3 linked regions of the Homo sapiens genome follow. The protein of the gene in region 3 interacts with the protein of the main gene of each other region in a pairwise test. Each region holds a gene or a part of one and is shown on either strand. Other genes may lie near its edges.

Region 1 (3,655 bases), about 24 Mb from region 3:
ACGAAATAGATTTCTTAAAAAATGTTAGGAAGATTGAGTAGCCACCTGGAAAAAAAAAAATAAAAAGTTGAAACCATATGTTACATTATACACCAAGACAAACACCAAATGAATCAAGACTTGAGTATATAGATATAGATATAGATATAGATGATATAGATATAGATATAGATATATAGATATATATGAAATACTTGAAGAAAACATGAGCTTCCCTTTAAAACTCTGAGGTAAGAAAGAACTTTTTATTCATGGCTCAAAATGCAGAAGACATAAAATTAAAGATTGACAGATCCAAAATCTACATATTGAAAAGAAAAAGCAATGAAAATAACTGAGTAAAAAGTACTTCTGTGTATAACAAAAAGCTCATTTTCTCCAAAATAATATTGAGCTCTTAGAGATCACTAAATATAAGACCAAATAATCCAATTTTTTAAATAGACAAAGATTATGAACAAACAGTTCACAAAATGTAAATACAAAAGGCCCTTTAACATATGGAAAGTTAAAAATTCCAACAAGGTATCACTTTTCATCTTTCACAATGGCAAAATGCTCTTAGAGAGCATTTTGGGAATACCTAACCACGTACATTTGCCCTTTGACCCAGAATCCCATTTCTGGGGATTTAATAGATATATCTGCACACATTATGAAAATGTCTTATATACATAGTGGTTCAAATCAAAAGACTGAAAAATCACAAATATCCATCAGTAGAGGATTGGTTAAATGAATTTTAGTAATCCTACAATAGGATATTATACAGCCATTAAAATATCATCACAAAGAAAGCCTCCTCATATGGGAAGATCTGACAGATACGTTGTTTAAAGAAAAAAAGCAAGGTACAGAATATAGTGTTATTTATGCTATCTTTTGTATTTGTATTTGAATAAAGAAATTCGATGAAAACTAATATAACTACTTATTTGCATTCAAAACAGGAAAAGGAGCTACTAATAGAAAGCAAAAATGATGAAGGAATGTGAACCAGACTTTTCATTGTATACCTTTTTACAGTATTTTGATTTTTTAACCATGTGTATGCACTATCTATTCAAAGGAAATGTACATATATATAGACTATTATATAGAGAGATATATAGATACATATAAAGAGACTATATATACACATATATACATATCTCTCTCTGTATATATAAAGAAACCATGCTACACACCTAGAAATTAATCATTGTATAGCATCTAAGGGATAAAGTCAGCTATAAGCAAGTCTGCTAAACTGTCAAACGAAGATATAGGATATTCAAATGGTTTCACATTCCACTATAAATAGTGTCCTATTTGTAGCACAGAACACCTCCATCTGTAGTAAAAGGTTTCATTTCACCATTAATTTTCGCTATAATATCTTTATTATTTAAATCCTTATATTAATTTTAGACATTCTCTAGGCCTCTGAAACAAAATATCTATACCATTTAACTAATTCTCACCCAGTATGTAAACCAGTGGCCTTCATTTAGCCCTTTTGCACTGTACATGTTTATATTTTCAAAGTTTTCCCCCCAATTGTTAATCTCTAAATTTTAAAGATAAATTCCATCTGTTAATCAAATCCAAATAAAATATACTAAAGAAACCAAACACTGCTTCTCAAAATTTAACGGCCATACAAATCATTTTGGAGTCTTGTTAAAATGTACATTCTTATCCAGTACTCTGGCGTGGGACTCAGGATTCTGCATTTGTAATAGTTTCCCAGAGGAACTGATACTACCTGCCTTTAAAATAAGCTGAGTAAGTTAGCAGAGTGGCATAACAAAAGCGTGCTAAGCCCATAAAACACACTGAATTAGTAAAGCTCTAAAAGAGACTACTGAAAGTTCTTTCAATTCACTTGAGTTGGGTTACATTCAATACTATTTGAAACAAATCAACCAGTGACCAGCACTGGAAAGTTTTTCTTTCATAAAGATTCACTATAACAGTGTTCCTCACCCCACTTTGACCTTTAGATACATTCTTTTGGCTATCTTCTGACTACATCACTCCCCTTTTAAAATGTTTCAATGGTTCCCCAATGCCCTGCTTTCCATTAATTTTTTACCACTGTTCTTAAAATATTCACTAAGTAGAAGGGTTCTCAGATACTAGATTTGTTAGCAGTGTATATTTAATATCACCTCTATCTATTCCATAAGGTTATTATAAGAAACAAAAGATAATATATGATAAAACACCGCAAAAATACAAAGTACTACATAATTAATTACAAGGTATCTCCCACATTGCGGCAAACAAAGGATACCACATCCATAATGGTCTAGAAAATTCTGCATGAGACTTTATGGAATGTATATATAATTAAGTACCTTATAATGTTTTTTTATAGAAGGCAATATATTGTTTATAAGAAACTAAAACAAGTTTCAAACTAAGAACTGTTCCTTTTCTATCCCCTATTCCTTCTTATGTTTATATTTGTATTCAGCATCTAAATTGCGGTTTTCTATTTGTATAAAATGTTATAGTGGAGAAAGTGACCTTATTTTCAGAGAAAAAGATTTCTTTTTACAGCAATTCAAAACATTATTCTTTGTTTCCCCCTAAATATATTCAAATTGTGACTGGAAAAAAAAAAGGCTAAATATGTAAATACGCATTAGTTATCAGGGAAACACAAATCAAAACCGCAATGATATACCATTTCACACTCATTAGAATGGTTAGAATTAGAAAGTCGGATTATGGCCAGTGCTGGCCAGGATGTGGAGAAATTGAAACCCTCGAACACTGCTAATAAGAATGTAAAATAGTACAGCCACTTTGGAAAATAGTCTAATAGTTCCTTAAGCTGTTACCACATGACCCAGGAATTCAACTCCTGAGTATATGCCAAGACAGATGAAAACATATGTCCACGCAAAAACCTGTACCCAAATGTTCATAGAGGCATTATTCATAGCAGCAAAAAGGTATCTATGGGGTTCAGAACACATTACCCCATATGTGTTCTGGCATCCTGACATTTGAAAAAATGGCAGAAGCAGGAAAGTCTTTCTGACCTTGCCCTCACCCTTCTCCCCTGAACCAGGCCATAAAAGGATTATCTGACCTTCCTTTAAAGTAAGTCATAAAACCTTTATTACAGAGGTCCCTACCCTATACACAAAGGAAAATAAGTGTCCTTATCTCTGAAGACACAGAGACACAAAAATCTGAACAAACAGGCCTTACTACGTTTCCTCCAGTTTATTGTCATTAGATCATATCCTTTTTTCCTCCTATCATACTTCGGTATGACTGTCCAGAAAAATAGTTTTCCCTGTTTCTTTGGGTCTTCATTTCTAAATATTCCTGTGTCGGCTGGGTGCAGTGGCTCACACCTATAATCCCAGCACTTCCCAGGTGGGTAGATCACGAAGTCAGATCCAGACCATCCTGGCTAACACGGTGAAACCCCATCTCTACTAAAAATACAAAAAATTATCCGGGCGTGGTGGCAGGCGCCTGTAGTCCCAGCTACTTGGGAGGCTGAGGCAGGAAGATCCTTTGAACCCGGGAGGCGGAGCTTGCAGTGAGCCAAGATCACGCCACTACACTCCAGCCTGGGCGACAGAGCCAGACTCCATCTCAAAAAAAAAAAAAAAAAAAAAGTTTCCTGTGTCAGTAAAATGTACGTTAA
Region 2 (3,655 bases), on a different chromosome or scaffold from region 3:
ACTCCTGGGCTCAAGCAACCTCCTGCCTCTGCCTCCAGAATAGCTGGGACTACAGGCACACACTACCGCATGTGCTAAGCTTATCTGCAAAATACAAAAATGACTACTTCACATTTCATTTCTTCAGGAGGATGCTCTAAGAACCAACTAAATGTATGTATATCATTTGGCTTACTTGAAGAAAAGGCACCACATTAATATAAAGGACAATACCAAGGCAAAGAAAAGTTCCAAGGTCTAGTTGCTTTCTATACTCCCTTAATGCCAAACTTTACGACTTAACTTGTTAGGGATGGTGGCCCTTTTTACAAATATTTCCAAAAAAGAAAGGCTAAACACACTCACAAATTGTAAACAAGGTTGCCATGTTCTCCTTGTTTGAATTGGAGTCTTCCATTTGCAGTGAAGGTGATACAAAAGAAAGACTGTCTGAAGATACATCTACATGACCTGTCCCCATAGCAACCTCCTGGGTGATGGAGGAGACAGCCACAGGTTCTAGGCTGAGGCCAACTTCATGGAGGGAAACAGATTCTAGGGAGGCAAGGTTGTGTGAGGTAGAGAGTGCCACGCTTACAGAGTTGGTGCTCATGGCCACAGTGTGAATGGAGTCACTGAGGGCACTGTCAGACATGCCATTGACCCGACTTGCAATGTGGTCTGTCTCCATGACCACAGGGAGCTCCAGGCCATTCCCATGCATGGGTATCACACCACCATGTCCTACAGCGTCTGCTGCAAGGTTGTTGCTCACAGAATCCACAGACAGAGGTTCATGACTTCTGGAGCCATTTGGGATTTGGGAATGCTCGCCTGCAACACCGTCCATCGTAAGCTCCTCTGCCATTCCATCTGTCGAAATTGGGCTGGTAACCCTAGAAACGTTCTCCATAGTGATTGCTGTGTCCAAGGCCACCTCATGGCCATCACTGGGATGAAGACTTTGGGCACCATGTGTGTTCACAGAGCGAGAGTCTATTGAAACAATGCCTGGTTCTAATCCAACATTTCCATTGGACTGATAGGGATCTAGTGCTGAAGGGTTATTGGTGATAGATAATGCTGTATTACCATCAACATTTATAGAGTTAGGGTGGATGTACTGTGGAGGTGGTCTGTCAGCTAAATAAGATAAAATGCCTGAGAAAAGGAAAAGATGAGATATCAGAGACTTTTAGTACATTATTAAAGAATTCCAAGCACTAGACGCTATTTCCTTACAAACATAACTAAGTTCAAATAATCTCCTGCTTCTTTAATTTAATCGATACACACTATTTTATAAATAGCAACATACATATACCGTAATTGAGTTTTTCCTGTAAAACTCGAAAATCCTAAAAAAGTTAACTATGTTCCTTTGAAGCTAACTGGGAATCACTAACGAAAACACTGCTTTTAATATACATATGGTTGCAATTCCTGAGTCCTAAGGTGTAAAATTTGCTCTCCTAATTATTAAAAGGTAAAATGATTTAAAAACAGATCTTCCATGTGAAAAATAAAACTTAATTAAATATAATTTAATATAATTAAACTATCATAACACAAACTATTTAATACAAGTCACAATTGTACCTGTTTTATTAAAACAAAAAAAAATTAACACTTGTGCTTGGGAGGATATGGTGAAATGATACTTACTAAACTGCCAGAGGGAATGTAAACTGCTAAAACTTCTTTGTGAAGCATATATATTAGGAGCCTCAAAAATGTTAATACCCTCTTGCACAAGAAATTCCACTTAAGGTACTCTTCTCTAAATCCATTTTGTAAATATTATACATAAAGACGTTCATAAGAGCATTAGTTACAATGGTAATAAAAACTGGAAAAACCAAACTGTCCAACAATAAAGATAATAAACCATCAAATACCCATTCAGTAGAAAGTAATGCATCATTAAAAAGGATAATTATGAAAACCACGTAGCAGCAAAGGAAAATACCCATGTAACAGCAGAGAAAAAGATAAAGTGAAAAAAGTAAAGACAGACAATCGTATAGAAAGTATGGTCTTGGGCAGGGCACAGTGGCTCATGCCTGTAATCCCGGCACTTTGGGATGCTGACGTGGGCGGATGGCTTCAGCGCAGGAGTTCGAGACCAGCCTCGGCAACATGCCAAAACCCCATCTCTTTTTTTAAAAAAGTTATTTATAAAAAAGAAATGAAATATGGTATGGTCTCAAGGCAGGCATGTGCCTGTATTCCAAGCTACTCAAGAGTCTGAGGTGAGAGAATCACTGGAGTCCAGGAGTTCCAGTCCAGCCTGGGCAAAATAGTTGAGACTCCGTCTCCATTAAAAGAAAAAAAAAAAAAAGAAAAGAAAAAAGAGAGCAAGAGAAGAAACCGTGGTCTTAATTATGAAAATTGGTAAAAACCTATACACCAAAACAAATGGCAGGAAGGAAGTACACCAAAAAGATGGATGATGGGACTGAGTGGTTCCTTCCCTTATTTGCTAAATTTTCCGCAATAAGCATATAATACTCCTATAACAGAATAAAAATTCAATGAACTTAAAAAACATGACACTATAACAAGACACTATAGTGCTTGACTGAAATTATAGCTGTAGAATTATAAACACCAAATGAAAGAGATACTGGAGGAGAAAGAAGAAAAATTATGTGCAATTAAGAAATTCAGCTTAGTCAAACTGTATTACTAATGTGTTATGTGCCACATTCTAAGAGGAAAAGTACATAAATATAAACAAAGATACTTTTCCTGCCTAGAGATTAATATCTAATAGTGACAAACAGAAAAAAGTGTTATTCATATCTTCAGGATAAAAGTTTAAAAGCTGGCGCCGTTCTTTTTCTCTAACATCTCAAGTAACTGTAACACTTACCAGGTAGAATGGTTCTGAAATAACTGCTCTCCAGGTGAGGGTAAGGTGGTGGAGGTAGGGTGTAGTTTCTTTCAGGTAACCCACACATCACCCCTCGATCCCCAATACCCATTGGTAGCATTAAAGACAGAGCAGAAGGCAGAGAGCTCAGGGAGGGACCCAGGTTTGGAATTGCCACTGGGAGGCCTACAAAACAAAATTTTTTTTCTCAGTTAAAAGAAAATAGGTAATTAAAAATTCTCACTACAACCACTGGCTAAACTCTTAGAAAGGTTTTTACACATGGGCAAAAATCTCACCTACTAGCCCTTTTCATCCTTAGATAATGTGCAAATATCCACAAATAAGCCTAAAGAAAGTAGTCTTAGTCCCAAAGATAGTTTTTAAGTTAGTTCTAAACCGGCAAGTTGATACTCCAATTGTCTGTATTGCGCTTAAATACAAAAATATTTAATTAATTAATTTATCGATTGATTTGAGACGGAGTCTTGCTTTGTTGCCCAGGCTGGAGTGCAGTGGTGTGATCTCAGCTCACTGCAATCTCGGCCTCCTGGGTTCAAGCAATTCTCCTACCTCAGCCTCCTGAGTAGCTGGGATTACAGGCACACACCACCACACCCAGCTAATTTTTGTATTTTTGCTAGAGACAGGGTTTCACCATGTTGGCCAGGCTGGTCTCGAACTCCTGGCCTCAAGTGATCTGCCCACCTCAGCCTCCCAAAGTGCGGGGATTGCCACCATGCCCAGCCAAAATATTTAATTTAGAATTAAAAACCGAGTTTAAATACAAGAAAACAAATT
Region 3 (3,655 bases):
TTTTAAGATCTCCCTGAGAGACGCATACTGCTGGTCTACAGATTGATGTTTGGACATGGCAGATAATTAAGTAATAACAACAAAGTTTGATGCATATCATGATAGGCAGGGGTTGTGTGGTGAGCTCTGAGAATGTGGAGGAGGTAGTATACAGAAACACAGAGAAGTAGAATGTAGAGGAGTCACAGAAACTCAGCACTAGAAAAAACCCTGGAATTTGTGTCATTCAATCTCACAGATACAGAAACTGAGGCCCAGACCCAGAGAGAAGACAAAGCCAGAGCCAATAATAGATAACCATTACCAGACATATGAATATACTGTTTGTCAGTTGCGAAATAGCTCTATGGAGATGAAGTTTGAGATGAATGGTGGAAACACAGAAGGTAAAATAGATGACAAAGATAATGAACAAATGGGTAAATAGTTCTTATTGTTAGGAAGAACATATAACTAATAGAAAATCGGAAATATAAATTAGCCAGTTTTGGGGAGGCAGTTTAATGAGAGCAGACAGAAGTATATGGCTAGATGTAAAACAGCTACGGGGTGGGACAGATTAGAGAGCTCTGGAGACAGATACAGATATTAACAGTAGAAATGCATGGCAGGGGGGCTGTTGGGGGTGACTGATGCTTGACAAATAGCTGATAGCTGGAAATGACAGGTAAGCTTGCCTGGTAAGTACCAAGAGGCGGATAGAGAAGTAGCTAATTATATAGCCTGGCTCCGTATGATAAGTTATGAGGGCAACAGAAAGGCAATGTTGATGACGGAAACTGCATAAGGGAGGAAGAACGCTGGACTAAGAGGACACACAGGTTTGGATCTTCTTATGCTACTAATCTGACATACTACCTTAAAGGGAAGGGACTAGGGATGGGGATTAATATTATTTGAGCTCATATGAGGTACCTTTAATCATTAAACAACTATTTTCTCAATGAGGAAACCAGAGCTCAGAGAGGTTAAGTGACTTGCCCAGGGTTACACAGTAAGTTAGCAGGGAGGCAGGTATTTAAAATCGTGTTTGCCCACCTGGGAAGCTCTGTCCAAACCATCTCTCCATCTCAGGGTCTTCACCTGGAAGGACAGGCTGCCACGGCAGGTTCCCCAGGCTCAAACCTCCCCTCATTCTTTTTGTTGTACCATATGCAAAAAGCAGCTCATTTACAGACGGGAAGAAGATTAGCCCTGAGTTTTGATAGTTAATGAAGCAGGATACGTTTATGTTATTCTATCTGGTTTTGTTTTAAATATATGTTTGAAATGTCTCATAATAAAAATGAAAGAAACAATCAGTCCGTTTACTAACTGGCATTGTTAGGAGCAAATATTGACAGGCAGCTAGGTTCAGTTTGAAAGAGAGTTAATTAAAAATGCTCTCACTGAGCTAAAAAATTGAAAGTTTAAAAACAATGACATTATTTCAACAAGTGTTAATCTGTGGGTGGTAGGATTAAAAACCATTTTTGTTTTCTTACAGTTCTGCAATTAAAATTTAATAAATATTACTGTTTAAATGAAGTTAATTATAAACACCATTCTTAAACTGACACCTTGTTTCAAACAATAATTTTAAAACACTGCCAGGAGGGAAAAGGGAGTGTTATTTTATTAACTTATTTTTAAAAACACATCTTTCTTTGAAACGTTTTTAAAATTAACTCTTGTTTTGTAAGCTTTTTCCCTGCAGTTAGAACAGCCCAGCTAGTACATCTGAAAACGCACGGGTCCTGCCTCCGACCCGTGAGCGATTTGTAGATTAAGTGGGGCAGCAGACAGATATGACGACAATAGATGCCAAAATGCCACTGAAGGAGGAGAGGGTAAGGTCCGCCGAAGAAAGCTGCGGATGAAGTTTGGGTCTGGGCTCCCTCACTAAGCCCCCTTCCTACTCTGGCTGCTAAAGGGAGGCTCCGGCTGCCCCCCATGCCGGGCATCTTCTCACTGCCCGGGACTTGGGAGGGGACGGTGGTGTAGTAGGGTCGAGACTAGGAGGAAAGGGGAGCGGAAGGTGAAAAGTCAGCCGGGAGGTAGCTGGGAGACCGCGGAGCCGGCCTCTCGCAACTCTGGGAGCCGGCCGGCACGCAGAGACTGAAATCCACCTCCAGGGCAGCAGCTAGGCTGAGGGTCGCTGAGCCCCACTCCAACACGTCGGACCTGGGTGGACCAAGAGCTTATGCAGTGATCCCAGGCAGCATTTATTTATGGCAAAGTCTACTTACAATGAACCCAAATCCACCTCCCTATAACTTTCATCTAATTCTTTAATTTTTTCCCTTAAATTAACGATCAGTTACAAAAACACTACACGGTAATTGTTAATTTCACTCAGTTCAAGCCCAGGCGCCGTTGGAGTTTATTCCTTCTCCCATTCGACAGCCTTTCCAGTGATTCAGAGAAGCACCTGAGTACCCGGGGTCTATTTCCCACCAGGCCCAGGCCACTCAGATGCTCTGCGCGCGCACACCGTGGCTTCCACAGCCCTATCAGCCGGCCTGGGCCGGATCAGAGCAACCCTCGGGCCCCAAGCAGGGGCTGGCCCCTCCCTGGTTAAGCCCCTCTGTTGGTAGTCTGAGGACACCTGGGCTTTCTCCCCAGACGCTCCTGGCTGGTGGGCAGCCAAGGCCCCGCCAGTTTTGCCCAGGAACAGCAGCAAAGCCAGTGCGGACCGGCTCCCCGCAGGACTATGAGCGCCCCGACACAGTGGCGGGAAAAGGGCTGCAGGAATGCCAGGGCTGGAGCCAGCTCCAGTGGCCTCGGTGCTGCCTGCGCTGCCCGCTCCCGAGGCGACCCGCTTCCTCCAGGGAACCTGGTCCCCCCGTGAGGAGCTTTGGGAGCCGGGCTCGGGATACAGTTTGCATTTACTCTGCCTCCTGCTAGGTCTTTAGCGCTTGACAAAAGTCCTGCGGGCTCAGCAGGCTGCACGCAGTCTCGAGGAAGAGGCTCTAAAGACGGGCTTGACCGCAGCGCCGCGGGGAATGGGGGCCTTTTGGAACCCAGCAGGGCTGGGCTGGGGCGGGCTCAGGGCCTCTCCTGCACCCGCGCACCCTCACCTCCACCCGGGCTCCGGGCGCAGGGCAGGCCGCGACCGGGGGTGATTACCTGCGTCTCGGAGAGGCTGAGACTGCCGGCCAGCTGCTTCCGCTCGGCGCCCACCACGTAGTGGTTCTTCTCGAAGGCGCGCTCCAGCCGCAGCAGCTGCGAGGGCGAGAAGGCCGTGCGGATCCGCTTGGGCTTGCGTGCGAAGGGGCCGTGCAGAAGCAGCCCGTCCTGGGGCACGTCGCTGGCTGCGGCCCCGCCGCCGACGGCAACACACGCAGGTACAGACAGAGAGAAGGGGCGCCGTGAGCCGGGGCCCAACAGAGCCTGGCCTCGCGCCCTGCTCCCAAGCGCCCTGCCCTCTCCATTCCTTGACACGCACACACACGCCATTTCTCCCTTTGCCCTTTTGCCGCCCCTTCCCTAAGTCCACTCCCCTCCGCAACACCTCCCCGCACTCGAGAGCCACTCCGCGGGGGAACGCGGGGAATAACAGCTCTCCAGATCCCTCTGTTAAGCCAAGAGATGGGGCAGGCCGGACGAGGCGTGGACCCACATTCACAATGCCTGGGGCAGCGGAAGAGGCCAAGGGGTGGGGAAGAAAAGTCCA

What was found.
Region 1: the proteins of EMX1 (region 3) and GTF2A1L interact in a two-hybrid assay, tested with the Homo sapiens proteins (one large-scale study listed by BioGRID and IntAct).
Region 2: the proteins of EMX1 (region 3) and PRDM4 interact in a two-hybrid assay, tested with the Homo sapiens proteins (one large-scale study listed by BioGRID and IntAct).

The regions. Positions count from the first base shown.
Region 1 is NC_000002.12:48,673,331-48,676,985, reverse strand, and holds part of GTF2A1L (TFIIA-alpha and beta-like factor), read right to left. Parts: intron 1-3,655. UniProt on the Homo sapiens protein: May function as a testis specific transcription factor. Binds DNA in conjunction with GTF2A2 and TBP (the TATA-binding protein) and together with GTF2A2, allows mRNA transcription.
Region 2 is NC_000012.12:107,751,070-107,754,724, forward strand, and holds part of PRDM4 (PR domain zinc finger protein 4), read right to left. Parts: intron 3,041-3,655; coding exon 2,855-3,040; intron 1,141-2,854; coding exon 346-1,140; intron 1-345. UniProt on the Homo sapiens protein: May function as a transcription factor involved in cell differentiation.
Region 3 is NC_000002.12:72,923,947-72,927,601, reverse strand, and holds part of EMX1 (homeobox protein EMX1), read right to left. Parts: intron 3,294-3,655; coding exon 3,109-3,293; intron 1-3,108. UniProt on the Homo sapiens protein: Transcription factor, which in cooperation with EMX2, acts to generate the boundary between the roof and archipallium in the developing brain. May function in combinations with OTX1/2 to specify cell fates in the developing central nervous system.